Linked DNA regions of Homo sapiens: region 1 is linked to region 2. The links come from fine-mapping of genetic effects on gene expression. Tissue or cell type: whole blood. Region 2 holds a variant in brackets; the other region holds the start of a gene. All regions are shown on one strand. Distances are from middle to middle.

Region 1 (8,000 bases), 26 kb after region 2:
GACGTATGATTGGATTGGCCGGGCGCGGTGGTTCACGCCTGTAATCCCAGCACTTTGGGAGGCTGAGGTGGGTGGATCACCTGAGGTCGGGAGTTCGAGACCAGTCTGACCAACATGGAGAAACCCAGTCTCTACTAAAAATACAAAATTAGCCAGGCATGGTGTCATGTGCCTGTAATCCCAGCTACATGGGAGGCTGAGGCAGAATCGCCTGAACCCAGGAGGTGGAGGTTGCAGTGAGCCAAGATTGCACAACTGCATTCCAGCCTGGGCAACAAGAGCGAAACTCCATCTCAAAAAAAAAAAAGAAGTATGATTGGACAAAAAGGGTATGATCTAATGGCAATAAATGGGGGGTGGGGGACCAGCAAGGCCTGTCCAGATTCTTCTTGGCCTCCAAGTATAGGGCAGGACCCATCTGAAATGAGAGCCTATGACCTACTTCCACGTGAAGTTAGAGAATTCCTTTATGGCCAGCTCTCACAGAAAAACAGAGCAGAGTGAGCTACTTACTTCTGCTGTTTTCGTAATTACCAAGGTGCCATGTTTTGGAGTGTCATGTTCTGAGCTCCAACAGAGGGAAGAGTGAGTCAGGGAGGTTATCACGCTGAAGGCCAGAAGAGGAAGGCAGATGACAGACGGAAAAGGTAGGGGACAAGGAAGTGAGCGAACCACGAGACAAGTGGGTGTCATGAACTGGGAAATCAGAAGACCAGGGTTGGATTCCAAGCTCTGCTGTAAAGTAGCTGTGTAACCTCAAGTAGCTGTGTAACCTCACCCCTTGTCCCTAACCTCTCCGGAAGTGATATCTTCCAGCTGTAAAATGAGGATAATTGTAGTACCAAGGGCCAGGGTTCCTGGGAGGATGAAAGGAAATCATAGAGGTCTAGGCAGACTTAAAGGCAGTATGGATGACACAGATCCTACAAAACTTTAGCTAGGACATGGAAGAACCTTTTGTATTTTAATGGTTGTATATTTATTTTAAGAGAAAAATATAACCAATGCATCAAACTTGTGACTTCACAGATATTATTGCTTAGGATAATTTACTATTTAAGTTTTCTTTCTTTTTTTTTGTTGCCCAGGCTGGAGTGCAATGGCCTGATCTCGGCTCACTGCAACCTCCGCCTCCAGGTTCAAGTGATTCTCCTGCCTCAACCTCCTGAGTAGCTGGAATTACAGGCACATGCCACCATGCCTGGCTAATTTTGTATTTTTAGTAGAGATGGGGTTTTACCATGTTGGTCAGGCTGGTCTCAAACTCCTGACCTCAGGTGATCCACCGGCCTCAACCTCCCAAAGAGCTAGGATTACAGGAGTGAGCCACCGTCCTGGCCTCTACTTAAGTTTTCAAAACTAGTTTGTGCACACTTAAAAGTAATTCATTTCATTGTATGTAAATTTGAACTCAAAAGAAAAAAAAGCATTAAAATATTGAACTCTACTTAATATACATGCTGAAATGTCTTGGGATGAAGTGCAATGATGTCCACAATCTGCCTTGAAATGCATCAAGAGGCCGGGCACTGCGGTTCACACCTGTAATCCCAGCACTTTGGGAGGCTGAGGCAGGTGGATCACCTGAGGTCAGGAGTTTGAGACCAGCCTGACCAACACGGTGAAACCCCATCTCTACTAAAAAAATACAAAAATTAGCTGGGCATGGTGGCGGGCACCTGCAATCCCAGCTACTCGGAAGGCTGTGGCAGGAGAATTGCTTGAACCTGGGAGGCGGAGGCTGCAGTGAGCTGAGGGCACCATTGCACTCCAGCCTGGGCGACAGAGCAAGACTCCATTAAAAAAAAAAAAAAAAAAAAAAAAGAAATGCATCAAGAAATAAGGTGATGGATGATGGATAGAAGAATGAATAGATGGATACTTAATAAAGCAAATATCGTGTAATTGCTGTAAAATTGATAGTGTAAAATATATGTTTATGTAAATATGTAAAATATACATATATAAATAAAATTGTAGAATCTAGGTGGAGGCACTGGATATTCAGTGTGCCATTCTTTCAACTTTTGTATATGTGTAAATTTTCATAATAAAATATTGGAAAAGAAAAATAGGCCAGGTGTGGTGGCTCACGCCTGTAATCCTAGCACTTTTGGAGGCCGAGGCGGGTGGATCACAAGGCCAGGAGTTCGAGACCAGCCTGGCCAACATGGTGAAACCCTGTCTCTACTAAAAATACAAAAATTAGCCAGGCTTGGTGGTGCGCGCCTGTAATCCCAGCTACTCAGGAGGCTGAGGCAGGAGAATCTCTTGAACCTGGGAGGCAGAGGTTGCAGTGAGCCAAGATCGTGCCACTGCACTCCAGCCTGGGTGACAGAGTGAGACTCCATCTCAAAAAAATAAAATAAAATAGTACTTTGATTTCAAGAAAAATATTAATAAGTAGACAATAGCACACGTGGTAGAATGAATTGGCAAAACTCATGAAGGTGATGGTGAATGATCACCCCGTTTGGCAAACAGGGACTCGAGTCTAAGTACTTTGGACAGGATCAGAAGAAGGTTCTAGGAATGTGCGGCCCCAGGGGAAAAGGCTCAGGTAAAGAAAACTGTCAGGTGGAAGCTGCTAAGCCCTGGAGGCAGAGCCTGAAGAGCAGTGGAAAAGTCTCACCTTTGAGATCAAGACAGCTCATCAATTCCTGAACCCATGGGTCCTTGTTGCCCCCACACACGCTCCAGGAAAGGAGCTGGAACCTGCGGAGGAGAGACCTGGGCTTAGCTGCGGCGCCTTCTTTCCTTCCCCGGCTCCTTCCTCATTCCAGAGGCGTGAAGTTGCCACCAAGAAAGAGCCCTTTCTCCTGGGACTGGGAAACTCCCCAGTAGGTGAGACGGAGTCATGAAGTTTCGGGGAATGAGAGCAAACGGAACCCGGAGATGGGGCTCGGTGAGCCGGGAAGGAGTTCAGGCTGGACCAGAGAGGGTCCTGGAGGCACCTGCAAGGAGGGGCCGCCCAGGCGCTGCCCTCGCAGAGGCAGGTAAAATTACCTCGTGTAGTATAGACACCGATGGTAAGCTCTCAGGTGTTTCCGGAGACGATTCATGAACTGAACCGATGGCGGGGAGTCGGAAGAAATTCTTTTACCACAATAACAACTTCCAGTGACGCTGCCCTCGTTGCCATTGCCTGCGCGGGACGGAGGTGGTCGGCACCCATTCCCAGGCCCAGGGTCCCCACTCCGCTGTTCCCTGGCATCCAATCCACAGCCCCATGACAGCCTCTCGGTGGACCCAGGGTCAGAGCGCCAGGCTCAACCCACACATCATCACGCCCCCGACAACATCCATAATCCCGCCCGGAGCCAGGCGTCCCCGGGCCTCTGTCCCCAACCCCAGGCGGCTGGCTGGCTTTCCTCTTGTCCCCGCTGCCTTCATCCACTCAACTCCGTGGGCCTCGTGTCCCCTCCCCAACTCACCCCCTTCCCGTGACAGGGGAATCTGGGTCCCCTGCCCCGCCCCCGGCTAACCTGGCTGAGTCAGGTACACCAGCAGGAGCAGAAGCAGGAGCAGGAGCACGCGGGACCCGGGCCGCAAGTCCCGTCCCATCTCGGGGCTCCGCGGACTCTGCGGGGATGGAGCCACCTCGCTCTGACTCCCAGACATGCTCCGGCGCGTGACGTCCAGCTGGTGTCTCAATGGCTTTCGCCGGGGACCGGAGGAGACGGCGGCCGGAGAGGAGGCGCGAGCCAGCTGCACCCCCCGGCCCTGCTGTGCCCCGACCGTGCGCTCAGTACTCGGCCCGCGCCATGCCAGCCTCTGGACGCAGGGAAAGCCGAGGAGGTGGAGCTCCCGCGCCCTGCGCCCCCGCACTGGGCCCGGCTCCGTCGAGGGAAGGCCAGGAATCTTGGAAGAAACCGAAAGAAAACTCCGGCGGCGGGCGAGGAGGGGCGGGAGGACGACGGCCCGAGGAGCCGATTCGGTTCGGTTCAGGAGGCCGCCCGCCTGGCCCGTCCGCCGACCTGTGAGGCGGCTGCACTGCCGGACCGGCCCTCCTCCTCCGAGGCACTTTCACTTCCCCGATCCGGGCGCCGCGGGACCCAGCCGCGCTGCATGAGCCTCCCGGGCGGCCCGGTGGAGAGAGTCGCCGCCAGCCCCGGCCGCGCGCACCTGCGGGGCAGCCACCCGCGGACGCACCGAGCCCGGGGGGCGTGGCCGCCCGCTGAGCCGGCGAGGGCTCGGGCAGCCCTGACGTCACAACCGCACCCGCGCACCCTCCACCGCGAGGTATTTACCTTCGAAAAGTGGTGGCGGCTGCAGGTACCGGAGGAGTGGGGCGGCCGGGAGGGGCTAGGTCTACCGGGGCTGCCCGCCACGCAGATCCGAGCCCAGGGAACCCCCTCGCTCCCACTCCCATACCCCACAGACGCATCCAAAATGCTTCCCTCCCCACCAAACCGTTCCCGATAGGATTAGCCCTCTCTCCTCTCTAGCCTTAATTTAAACTCTGCTTTTGAGGGTGTGAACTCTCCAATTTTAAGCCCCAAATACCATCTCATCCCTGAGTAGTCTTCTCCAACCCTGGTCACCCACTTTCAAGTCCAGCCCCCATTTTCCTCCCTAAACTCCCATCCTCAGCCCTGAAAAATCCTCTTCTCCGCTCCTAGCATATCCACGGATCCAACCCTAAGTGACTCTCAAACCTACCCTCTCCCTCAATTTGTGACCCAGCCCCAAACTCCATCATTGCTCTCCTGTCCCTCACCATATATCCCTTCTTTTGCTCAGTCTGGGCCGGGGCCCTGTGCCGCTGAAGACATGGAGTTTGTGTCTGGATACCGGGATGAGTTCCTTGATTTCACTGCCCTTCTCTTCGGCTGGTTCCGAAAGTTTGTGGCAGAGCGTGGAGCTGTAGGGACTAGCCTTGAGGGCCGCTGCCGGCAGCTGGAGGCCCAGATCAGAAGGCTACCCCAGGACCCTGCCCTTTGGGTGCTCCATGTCCTGCCCAACCATAGTGTGGGCATCAGCCTGGGGCAAGGGGCAGAACCAGGTCCTGGACCAGGCCTGGGGACTGCCTGGCTCCTGGGAGACAACCCTCCACTCCACCTGCGAGACCTGAGCCCCTACATCAGCTTTGTCAGCCTAGAGGATGGGGAGGAAGGGGAGGAGGAAGAGGAGGAAGATGAAGAAGAAGAGAAGAGAGAGGACGGGGGTGCAGGCAGCACAGAGAAGGTGGAACCAGAGGAGGACCGGGAGCTAGCCCCTACCAGCAGGGAGTCCCCCCAGGAAACAAACCCTCCAGGAGAGTCAGAGGAGGCTGCCCGGGAGGCAGGAGGTGGCAAGGATGGCTGCCGAGAGGACAGGGTGGAGAACGAAACAAGACCCCAGAAGAGGAAGGGACAGAGGAGTGGTAAGAACCCAGGGCTGGCCCTGCCCTACCCCTTGCCCAGCCATCCTCCCTTCGGAAGCCCTCCCCTGCCACTAGTTCTGAGTGCTGGCCTTCAGGCCAATCTGGCCTGAAAAGGTGTTTTTATTGACCCACAGTGGGGTTTTTTTTTTTAATTTAATGTTTAAACATTGCAAGAAAAAAAGTATCCAGAAGTCTGGATTTACACATTCCCAAGAAAAATCTCAAGCTCTGACAGTGGGCCTACATTTCTGCATGGCAGCGCATTCTGGTCCTCTGTAGCAGCTGTCCCCTTTAGAAGGAGCGTGCCCTCTCTACCCAGAGCCCTTTACTCAGTGAGGTTACTTGCCTAGCCCCGTAGGTATTTGAGTTTGGTACTCCTGACCCTGACCACATTTGTCTCTCGCTGCCCCCTACCACCTCAACTTTTCCCTCTTTCCCCAGAGGCTGCCCCCCTGCACGTTTCCTGTCTCTTACTTGTGACGGATGAGCATGGCACCATCTTGGGCATTGATCTGCTAGTGGATGGAGCCCAGGGAACCGCAAGCTGGGGCTCAGGGACCAAGGACCTGGCTCCTTGGGCCTATGCTCTCCTCTGTCACAGCATGGCCTGTCCCATGGGCTCTGGGGATCCCCGAAAGCCCCGACAGCTTACTGTGGGAGATGCCCGGCTGCATCGGTATAGAAATCTGGTATCTGAGGCTGGGGAGGACTCGGGCCCTGGATTCCCAAGCACCTCCTCCAGCCTGATGCCATCTCCCCCCCAACTGCATTTAGAGAGCTGGAGAGCTTGGTCCCAAGGCTAGGTGTGAAGTTAGCCAAAACCCCAATGCGGACATGGGGTCCCCGGCCAGGCTTCACCTTTGCTTCCCTTCGTGCTCGAACCTGCCATGTGTGTCACAGGCACAGCTTTGAAGCGAAGCTGACACCTTGGTGAGCAGCCCCAAAGCTGGGGGAGAGGAAGACCCCAATAGGCAAATAGAAGGAAGGCAGGGTGGTGGGGGGCGCCTAGCAGACAGAAGGAGAGGCAGGGACATGAGAAGATGCAGAGGAAACAATACAGACTGTTACAGGCGGTTAGAGGGTGTAAGACAAACAGACCGAGTGACATATGGGCAGCTGCTGGGCAGTTGAACAGCAGACAGGACCTACAGAGGTTAACACTAGGTGCCCACCACCCGCTGTGTCCCCAGCCCCCAGTGTAGTGCTGTCTTGTATTGTGGAGAGGCTTGTCTCCGGGCTGACTGGCAGCGGTGCCCAGATGATGTGAGTCACCGATTTTGGTGCCCAAGGCTTGCAGCCTTCATGGAGCGGGCAGGAGAACTGGCAACCCTGCCTTTTACCTACACCGCAGGTACCATAAGGAGGTCAGAATGGTTGGGGGAAACTGGGACCAGGTCTTTGAGACTGGGAATTAGATGTCTGGGAACAGGGTCCTGCAGTTGAAGGCTGAGTGTCTGGGGCTAGAGCCTAGATCCCTGGAACAAGGGCAGGGGCTGGGTGTTTGGGGCTGGAGACAGGGTCTCTGAAGCCGAGGCCTGAGTGTCTGGGTCCCTGAGAGCGTGCAGGGATTGGGGGACAGGGATTCAAACACTTACTTGCTTCCCAGCTCCACCACTAACTGCAGTGTGACCTTAAACAAACCACTTTACTTCTTGAAGCTTCCGTGTCCTCATGAGGGATACGGAGAAGGCCCATGGAATTGTTACAAGGATTATCTTGGCTTGGTGCCTGGTACGCTGGAGGCACTCAGAAATGGTAGTTCCCGGCCTGACTGGAACCAGACTTAGAACCAGGGTCCTCGCGGGAGGCTAGGGAGAGTTCAAGGCTGGGGTTCTAGGCCGGGCAATGGTTCACACCCGTAATCCCAGCACTTTGGGAGGCCAACTTGAGCCCAGGAATTTGAGATCAGCCTGGGCAACATAGACTCTGTCTCTACAAAAAATAGAAAAAATTAGTCAGGCATGGTGCACTCGCTTGTGGTCACAATTCTCGGGAGACTGAGGTGGGAGAATCGTTTGAGTCCAAGAGGTCGAGGCTGTAGTGTCCCGTGATCACGCCACTGCACTCTAGCTTGGGTGATAGAGCAAGACTCTGTCTCAAAAAAAAAAAAATGTCTGGGGTTCTAGCCCAGCACCTCAACTCCTCCCCTTCTCCTTCTCCAGAGGTGACCAGTGAAACCTTCAACAAAGAGGCCTTCCTGGCCTCTCGGGGCCTCACTCGTGGCTATTGGACCCAGCTCAGCATGCTGATTCCAGGCCCGGGCTTCTCCAGACACCCCCGAGGCAACACGCCATCCCTCAGCCTTCTTCGCGGTGGTGCGTGGGGTCTCTCCAGGCATGGGCCCCTTGGCCTAGAGGGAAGGACTGGGAAGAAGTTGTCTGGGTCCCAGATGATCCCTCCACATACACACTGACCCCTACCAACAGCACCAGGGCCATTTCAGGCCTTTCCCAGCCCTCAATGGAATCACCCCTACCAACTCCACCCAGAAACCCCATCCCTATGCAAACCCCCATTCCTCTTACTGCGGCTGTCTCAGGGAATACAGCCCCTTTGGAAGGAAGAAAGAGATGGGTCAGGTGGGGGTCTCCCTGACCCCAGGCCCCTCCTTCTTTCATCCTCTCAGGAGACCCCT
Region 2 (8,000 bases):
AGGCACGGATGGATGGGTCCATAGATGGACCGATGGATGGGAGCGGGTGAGTGAGTGGATGTTAGCTGGGATGGGTGGGTGAAGGAGATGGATAGTCAGAGACATTGGAAAAGGGAACCCTGCGAAGATCAAATGCAAACACCAGGAGGAGCTGACACGCTGCAGTGAAGAAGCGGGAGGGCTGGCCACAGAAGGCGGCACGCTCCGAGTGGAGCAGGTGAGCGGCGCGCACTGAAGCAAGCATCACGCAATTGAACCGCTCACCCACGTGTTCCCCCCCACCATCCTCCTTCCCAGACGGCGCTTCAGCTCATTCCACCGCCCCCAGCAGCCCGGTCGCCCCCACCGCCACTGAGAAAGCAAACAAAGGGGAGGAGACCCCTGCAGGTTCTGGATGCCGAAGGCCAATCGAAAGACTTAGATCCCCTGGAAGGCGGGCGCCTTGGTTTAGGGGGGTCCAATCGGTTTCAAGGGGTTGCAGCGGGGCGGGGAGATGGGCGGGAGGAGTGGGAGCTGGCCCCGCGCGCGGGGGAGGGCTACCAGGCTGGGAAGGAGCGCGAAGGGCTGGGGGCGGAGCCAATGGCCCCGCGTGTCTGCTAGGAGAGGGCGGGCAGCGCCGCGGCGCGCGCGATCCGGCTGACGCATCTGGCCCCGGTTCCCCAAGACCAGAGCGGGGCCGGGAGGGAGGGGGAAGAGGCGAGAGCGCGGAGGGCGCGCGTGCGCATTGGCGCGGGGAGGAGCAGGGATCTTGGCAGCGGGCGAGGAGGCTGCGAGCGAGCCGCGAACCGAGCGGGCGGCGGGCGCGCGCACCATGGGGGAGAAACCCGGGACCAGGTAAGGGAGGTGGGGCCACGCGGCGGGGCATGGGCGGCGGCTCGGGGCGGGGGCTGGGACGGTCCCAGACGAGGGCGCAGCGGAGAGGATCTGGGGGCCGGACGCCTGGGTCCCTAGGGACAGCCATCCGGGGCCGCACGCGCAGGTCCTCGAGGATAATGAGGGTGGGGGGGAAATGCCCGGGCCCCTGCAGAAAGCGAGGCCTGAGGGGGATCAGAAAAACCGGTGTCGGGGTTCTCGCAGGGATGTGGGGCCAGACTACTGGGCTCTCCCGTGCAGGCTGCGATGCAGGGATGGAGGAAGGAGGAGCAGGTGGCTGGCCCCGAGGGGTCGTGTACGGGGAGGCTGGATGCCGGGACGGGGGGGATCCACTCCAGACTCGCGCCAAGCCAATGGAAAGCCTCCTATCCAATATCCCCCAGGTAGTCGCGCTGCCCACACCTGTCCCGAGGGCCGGGTGGCTCCTCACCCAAACTTCTACCTTCCCTTGGGTTGCCAGGAGCAACAGCTTCATCTTGGGGGAGCCGAGTGCGTGGCGACCCTCCCTGAAACTAGATCGTATCCCTCTCTCTGGGGGTGGGGGAGGCAGTATTCACCCTGGGCGCGCGTCCACTCCCCGGATGTTTTCTGTGCAATCGAGGCTCTTTCCTTCCACTGATACCCCGAGTTCTCTTTTTTGGTCTCTAGCAAAATCCACTTCCTGTTGTGACTCAACACCCCCAAGGGGCAAGGGGTGGATGCCTGAGTCGCAGGGGAGCGGGAGCAAAAGACGAAAAGGTTGGGGCTGTAGGCCTCAACTCAGAGGGTATCAGGAATAGGGAATTGGTCCTGAGCTCTGGCTTGCTCTGCAAAACATCATATCAACCCCACTTCCAACCTATAGAGTATGAGAACCCGGGTTTCTGAGCATCAAGTAGACGAGCATCAGAAAGAGATCATCAGAGAGATGATCCGTCTCCTGGATCAGGGTTTAAACATCCCAGAGAAAGGGGAAGTTGCTGACTTGTGGGAGGCCCCTGATTTCCGTCATGTGGTTCAGGGAGTGGGACGGATGGACCAAAGGAGACTGCTAACTTGGCACAATTTCCCTCACCCCCATGAAATTCTGGGCCACAGGAAATGGAGCGAATAGCAGGAAGTGTGAAAGGACATCTGCTTCAGCTACCCCTGCTCCCACTGGGCACCTCCCTGGTCATCCCCACACTCTGCCTCCTTGGCCAGCCTAGTATATGCACGCTGCTCCTCCCCAGCCTGGCAGGAGGTGGCTGGGTTAGGATCCAAAGGGCAAGTGCCTTGCAGCTGCTCCAGGGCAATTGCCCCAGAACCACACTCCAGTTGGCCCACTGATTGTGGCTGTCACAGCCCTGTGCCAGGGCTCCTAATGGGAGGACACCCTGGGACAAAGAGGAAAACCAGAAGCAAAGGGGAGGGAGAGCCTGGATGATGCCACGGCACTCAGCTCCCAAGTTGGGATGAAAGATAGGGTGTTTATTCTAGCGGCTACCATATCGATGTGTATTCTCTTTTATTGGTTAGGAATACCTGGGGCCCTCCATACCCTTTGCCTTACAACCTTTGGACAGCTTGGCTTTCTGGGAAGAAGGGGCAAGTGAAGTTGTAGCAGAAACTGGGCCTATGGTAGAAACCATGTAGGGCCAAAGGCCAGGGTCATTGCTCTCCTATATGCTCCAGCTGTCAGAGCTGGAGACCAGATGGAAAGATGGTTAGGTCTTACCCAGACACTGTGGTAACCTGCCCATTGGGGTCCTCTGGGAATGGGGTGGTAGACTTGGAAGAGGGATGGGCTAGTTGGCAGGATTTCACGTTTCTGCTATCTATCTGAGGATCCTTTCCAGGGATCACTGCTGAGGCAGAGTGGATTGGAAGGAGTAAGGTGGTGCTTCAAAGAACAGGCCCACAATTGGCCAGATCACTGGGGTTGCCAAACACTTCCTTACCCTCCCAGCAATGGGTGGAGTCCAGGCTTAAATTGTTTCAGCAACTGGAAAGCAAATAACCTTCAATTCAACAAACTATTTATGCCAACTGCAGAGACAGATAGTGTAATATTGATCGAGAGGATGGACTCGGAGCCAGACTGCCTTGGTTTCTATTAATTCCCACCATTTACTCCCTCTGTGACCTTGAAACACTTGACCTCTCTCTGCCTCAGTTTCCTCACCTGTAAAACAGAGATATTAGGAGCTCCATCACTGGGTGGTTTTATTTAATTTAATTAATTTATT[T/A]ATTTATTTATTTTTTGAGACAAAGTCTTGCTCTGTCACCCAGGCTGGAGTGCAGTGGCTCAATCTCAGCTCACTGCAACCTAAGGCCGGGCACGGTGGCTCACGCCTGTAATCCCAGCACTTTGGGAGGCTGAGGCGGGTGGATCACCTGAGGTCAGAAGTTGGAGATCAGCCTGGCTAACATGGGGAAACCTCGTCTCTACTAAAAAAATACAAAATACAGGCCAGACACAGTGACTCAAGCCTGTAATCCCAGCCTTCTGGGAGGCTGAGGCGGGCGGATCACTAGAGGTCAGGAGTTTGAGATCAGCCTGGCCAACATGGGGAAACCCCATCTATACTAAAAATATAAAAATTAGCGGCCGGGCGTGGTGGCTCACGCCTGTAATCCCAGCACTTTGGGAGGCTGAGACAGGTGGATCACGAGGTCGGGAGATTGAGACCATCCTGACTAACACAGTGAAACCCCATCTCTACTAAAAATACCAAAATTCGCCGGGCGTGGTGGTGGGTGCCTGTAGTCCCAGCTACTCGGGAGGCTGAGGCAGGAGAATGGCGTGAACCCGGGAGGCAGAGGTCGCAGTGAGCCGAGATCGCACCACTGCACTCCAGCCTGGGCGACAGAGTGAGACTCCGTTTCAAAAAAAAAATTAGCCAGGCATGATGGCAGGCACCTCTAATCCCAGCTACTCAGGAAGCTGAGGCATGAGAATCGCTTGAACCCAGGAGGTGGAGGTTGCAGTGAGCTGACAGCGTGCCACTCTACTCCAGCCTTGGTGATAGAGTGAGACTCCATCTCCAAAAAAAAAAAAAAAATACAAAACATAGCCGGGCATGGTGGCTCACTCCTGTAATCCCAGCTACTCAGGAGGCTGAAGCAGGAGAATCACTTAAACCTGGGAGGCGGAGGTTGCAGTGAGCTGAGATCGCACCACTGCACTCCAGCCTGGGCAACAGAGTGAGACTCTGTCTCAAAAAACAGAGTATTACAAGAGATGACACATTTGAAACACTTGGAACAGTGCTGGGCATGGAGTAGTCACTCTGAAATGTTAGCAGCATTACCATCTTCATGATATGGCTGGCATTGTGCTGGAGATGCCTAAATTAATAAGGCCTCTGAGGCTCACAGTCTGAGGAGGGAGGGAGCTAACTATCCTTGTGTGCTACCACACCACAAGTAAAACATAAACAAGGTGTGACAGGAACCCAAAACAAGGAGCGACCAGGGTCTGGGCTGGGTCAGCTTCCTAAAGGCTGGGCCTTAAAAGACAAATAGGCTTTTAAGCTCTTGAGGTCGGAGTTGGGGACAGTTGGAGGTGAGTAGAGTCGAACTTGGGTAGGGCCTGTGGTAGAAACTATCTGAGGGCCAAAGGCCAGGGTCATTGCTCTCCTATATGCTCCAGCTGTCAGAGCTGTAGACCAGATGGAAAGATGGTTAGGTCTTATCCAGACACTGTGGCTACCTGCCCATTCGGGTCCTCTGGGAAGAGCCTGGGTGGTTCCTAGGGCAACCAGTGGCCATTACTGGGGAGGGAAGGGGACGAATGAGGGTGGACAAGACAAGGGGCATTTCCCCTTGCCACCACGTTAGAAATAGGAAGGACCTTCCGGGAAGAAGGGTTCCCCTTGCCACCACGTTAGAAATAGGAAGGACCTTCCGGGAAGAAGGGTTCCCCTTGCCACCACGTTAGAAATAGGAAGGACCTTCCGGGAAGAAGGGTTCCCCTTGCCACCACGTTAGAAATAGGAAGGACCTTCCGGGAAGAAGGGTTCCCCTTGCCACCACGTTAGAAATAGGAAGGACCTTCCGGGAAGAAGGGTTCCCCTTGCCACCACGTTAGAAATAGGAAGGACCTTCCGGGAAGAAGGGGAAAGGGGCAGAGCTGGGCAAAGCCCCACAGCCTCAGGCAGGAGGCCTGGGTGAGCACTGCTTCTCAGGCCTGGGAGGGAGAGGGTCCTGGTGTGGGGTCCCTGCTGAGTCTGAGGGAGGCAGTGGGGTTTCCCTTTCTGTTTTGTTAGGGTCTTCAAGAAGTCGAGCCCTAACTGCAAGGTGAGTCTCCACAGCACTTACCCTTTTGACCCTCCCTGGGCCCCAACAAAGCCCAGCCTTCCCCTAGACGATCCCCAACCTACCCAAAGATGATCCCCAACCCCTAGCTCCCCACTTCCTGTGACAGCTAAGCGCCGACTTCCTTCCCTCCTGAAGCCCCTTGCCGCAGAGGCTGCTCAGCCTGAGCCAGCCACAGGGCTGGGTGGGGCAGGCTTGGGTCCCCAAGCAAGACCACAGAGGAGGAGGCCAAAAGCAAGCCATGTGCCTGTAGCCCTCCTAGGAGCCAACCCAAGGTGCGTGGGGCTGGGAAAACCTAACAGCCCCCGGGCTATGGCCTATTTATCCTAGAGCCCCTTGAGGGGACCTAGTGAGGGTGGCAGCTGCTCTCTAGCTGGCTGGTTGGGCTGAGTTCTCCCCGAGGATCCAAACACACACACACACAGACACACACACACATACACACATACACACACACCTGGCTGGTTGGGCTGAGTCCTCCCTGAGGATGCAAACACACACACACGGACACACACACACACACACGGACACACACAAACACACCTCGCTGGTTGGGCTGAGTCCTCCCTGAGGACACACACAGACACACATGCACATACATGTTCACACACACACCTGACTGGTTGGCTGAGGACACACACACACACACACACACACACACACAAACACACACACACCGGGCTGGTGGGCAGAGGTGTGCAGAGATAAAGGAGCAGCTCAAAAGCCTAAAGGTCCACTAGTCTGAGAAACGCCACCACCCTCACTTTCCAACACTATTGGGAGGAAACCTGGAACAACTCCTTCCTGATAGCCCAGCCTGGAGATCCCCGGGCAGGGCAGCCAGTTTTGAGGGCTCCGATGCCCTGTCACCATCCTCCCCAATCTCCCCTGTGACCCCTTGACATCCTCAGCTCACCGTGTACTTGGGCAAGCGGGACTTCGTAGATCACCTGGACAAAGTGGACCCTGTAGGTAAGTTTTCCCAGAAAGGGACAGCTCGTTCCCCAAGAGGGGAAGAAGTTCCCGGGCCCAGGAAAGCGGGGAGCGGCCCTTTCAGGAAGTGAGCTGGTGTGTCCCCCTCCTAGATGGCGTGGTGCTTGTGGACCCTGACTACCTGAAGGACCGCAAAGGTACTGGCCCCAAGTCCAGGGGGCCCAGGGAAAGTGGGGGCTAGGGAAGTGAAATGGGCTGGCCTTGGAAGGGCGCCCCAGAGAGATGGAGGCTGGAGGTGGAAGCCAGGAGTAGGGTTCAGGCAAGTCTTATGCTGCTGAGGGAGGAGCAGCGGCTGCTAGGTGCCAGGGGACTGGGGAAGTGGGGCTCCTGACCACTCATCTCACCCTCCCTTGCCAGTGTTTGTGACCCTCACCTGCGCCTTCCGCTATGGCCGTGAAGACCTGGATGTGCTGGGCTTGTCCTTCCGCAAAGACCTGTTCATCGCCACCTACCAGGCCTTCCCCCCGGTGCCCAACCCACCCCGGCCCCCCACCCGCCTGCAGGACCGGCTGCTGAGGAAGCTGGGCCAGCATGCCCACCCCTTCTTCTTCACCGTGAGGATGCCCCTGCCCTCTGAGGGCCAGGGGGCTGGGGCTGGGACTGTGTCTGGGGTGGGGGTAAGGCACTGCTGTGGGCAGATCTGGAAGAAACAGTGAGGCAGGGACCCTAGATCCACTTCCCTTCAGGGTCCCAGTGCATTCAGGAAGCCCTTGATTATCTGCCTCCTCTCTGGGGCCCCTTCCTTCTTCCCTTCTCATCCCCAGGAGTCCTTTCTCCAGCCTCTTTTTTGTTGTTGTTGAGACAAAGTCTCGCTCTGTCGCCCAGGCTGGAGTGCAGTGGCACAATCTTGGTTCACTGCAACCTCCGCCTCCCAGGTTCAAGTGATTCTTATGCCTCAGCCTCCCGAGTAGCTGGGATTACAGGCACGCACCACCACACACGACTAATTTTGTATTTTTAGTAGTGATGGGGTTTTGCCACGTTGGTCAGGCTGGTCTGGAACCCCTGACCTCAGGTGATCCGCCCACCTTAGCCTTCCAAAGTGTTGGGATTACAGGCATGAGCCACCACACCCAGCGTCTCCAGCCTCTTAGGTTGAGATTTGGAGGAAGATCTGGGGGCTTTCTGGAAGAACTGAAGTCTTCTCCTTCCTCCGCCACAGATACCCCAGAATCTTCCATGCTCCGTCACACTGCAGCCAGGCCCAGAGGATACAGGAAAGGTACGGGAGGAACAGCTCTGAGGGCTCCTAGGGCAGGACATGGGCCAGCAGGAGCCTGGAGGCACAGCTGAGCCAGAGGGTGAACTGTCGAGATGCCAGGGTGGGGCCGAGGGTAGGCCAGTGTCCCCCGTGGAAGTGGGGCGTATGTGGTGGTCATTGTGCACGCATGACACTGCCTCCTGCTCTGTGGACCCGCATGGATCTGGGGATGGGGGCTCCCCTTGCACTACCATGACCAAGCCTCTGCCAGGTTCTGGGCTTTGGAGAGGAAGAAGACTTAGTCCCCAGGGTCGTGAGACCACAATGAGGCAAGAGTCCCTGCCCGAGAGGAGGGAAGGGGGAGGAAGAAAGGGCAGTGATGGTGGCGGGAGCCTCCGGTAAGATGTGGCCTTTTCTCCCCTCCCCGAGGCCTGCGGCGTAGACTTTGAGATTCGAGCCTTCTGTGCTAAATCACTAGAAGAGAAAAGCCACAAAAGGTAAGGGAAGTGACCTCCTCTGTGGTGTAAGAGGAGGCTTTCCTCCCCGCTTCCAGGAGCCCAGGCCCCGTGCGGGGGAGGAGTAGGGTTGGGGTGTGTGAGGAATGACCCCTCCTGCCCCTACTCTGATCCCAGGAACTCTGTGCGGCTGGTGATCC

What was found. PIP is the estimated chance that this variant, and not a neighbour inherited with it, causes the effect.
Region 1: ZMYND15 starts here. The variant in region 2 is fine-mapped to the expression of ZMYND15 in whole blood (TOPMed, PIP above 0.99).

The regions. Positions count from the first base shown.
Region 1 is chr17:4,735,776-4,743,775 of GRCh38, forward strand. It overlaps ZMYND15 (zinc finger MYND-type containing 15), which reads left to right and starts at 4,058. Exons shown (of 14, transcript NM_001136046.3): 1 at 4,058-4,275; 2 at 4,744-5,365; 3 at 5,807-6,041; 4 at 6,140-6,295; 5 at 6,556-6,716; 6 at 7,528-7,680; 7 at 7,992-8,000. The coding sequence starts at 4,774. It overlaps CXCL16 (C-X-C motif chemokine ligand 16), which reads right to left and starts at 4,153. Exons shown (of 6, transcript NM_001386809.1): 1 at 3,486-4,153; 2 at 3,007-3,145; 3 at 2,633-2,715. The coding sequence starts at 3,564. RefSeq lists enhancers at 2,666-3,571, 3,572-4,476 and a silencer at 4,025-4,244.
Region 2 is chr17:4,709,911-4,717,910 of GRCh38, forward strand. It overlaps ARRB2 (arrestin beta 2), which reads left to right and starts at 722. Exons shown (of 15, transcript NM_004313.4): 1 at 722-834; 2 at 5,103-5,133; 3 at 6,063-6,123; 4 at 6,237-6,281; 5 at 6,502-6,698; 6 at 7,307-7,366; 7 at 7,775-7,842; 8 at 7,978-8,000. The coding sequence starts at 812. RefSeq lists enhancers at 340-509, 5,152-5,221, 7,638-7,807 and a silencer at 439-968. The variant T/A (reference allele first, on the strand shown) is at 3,081.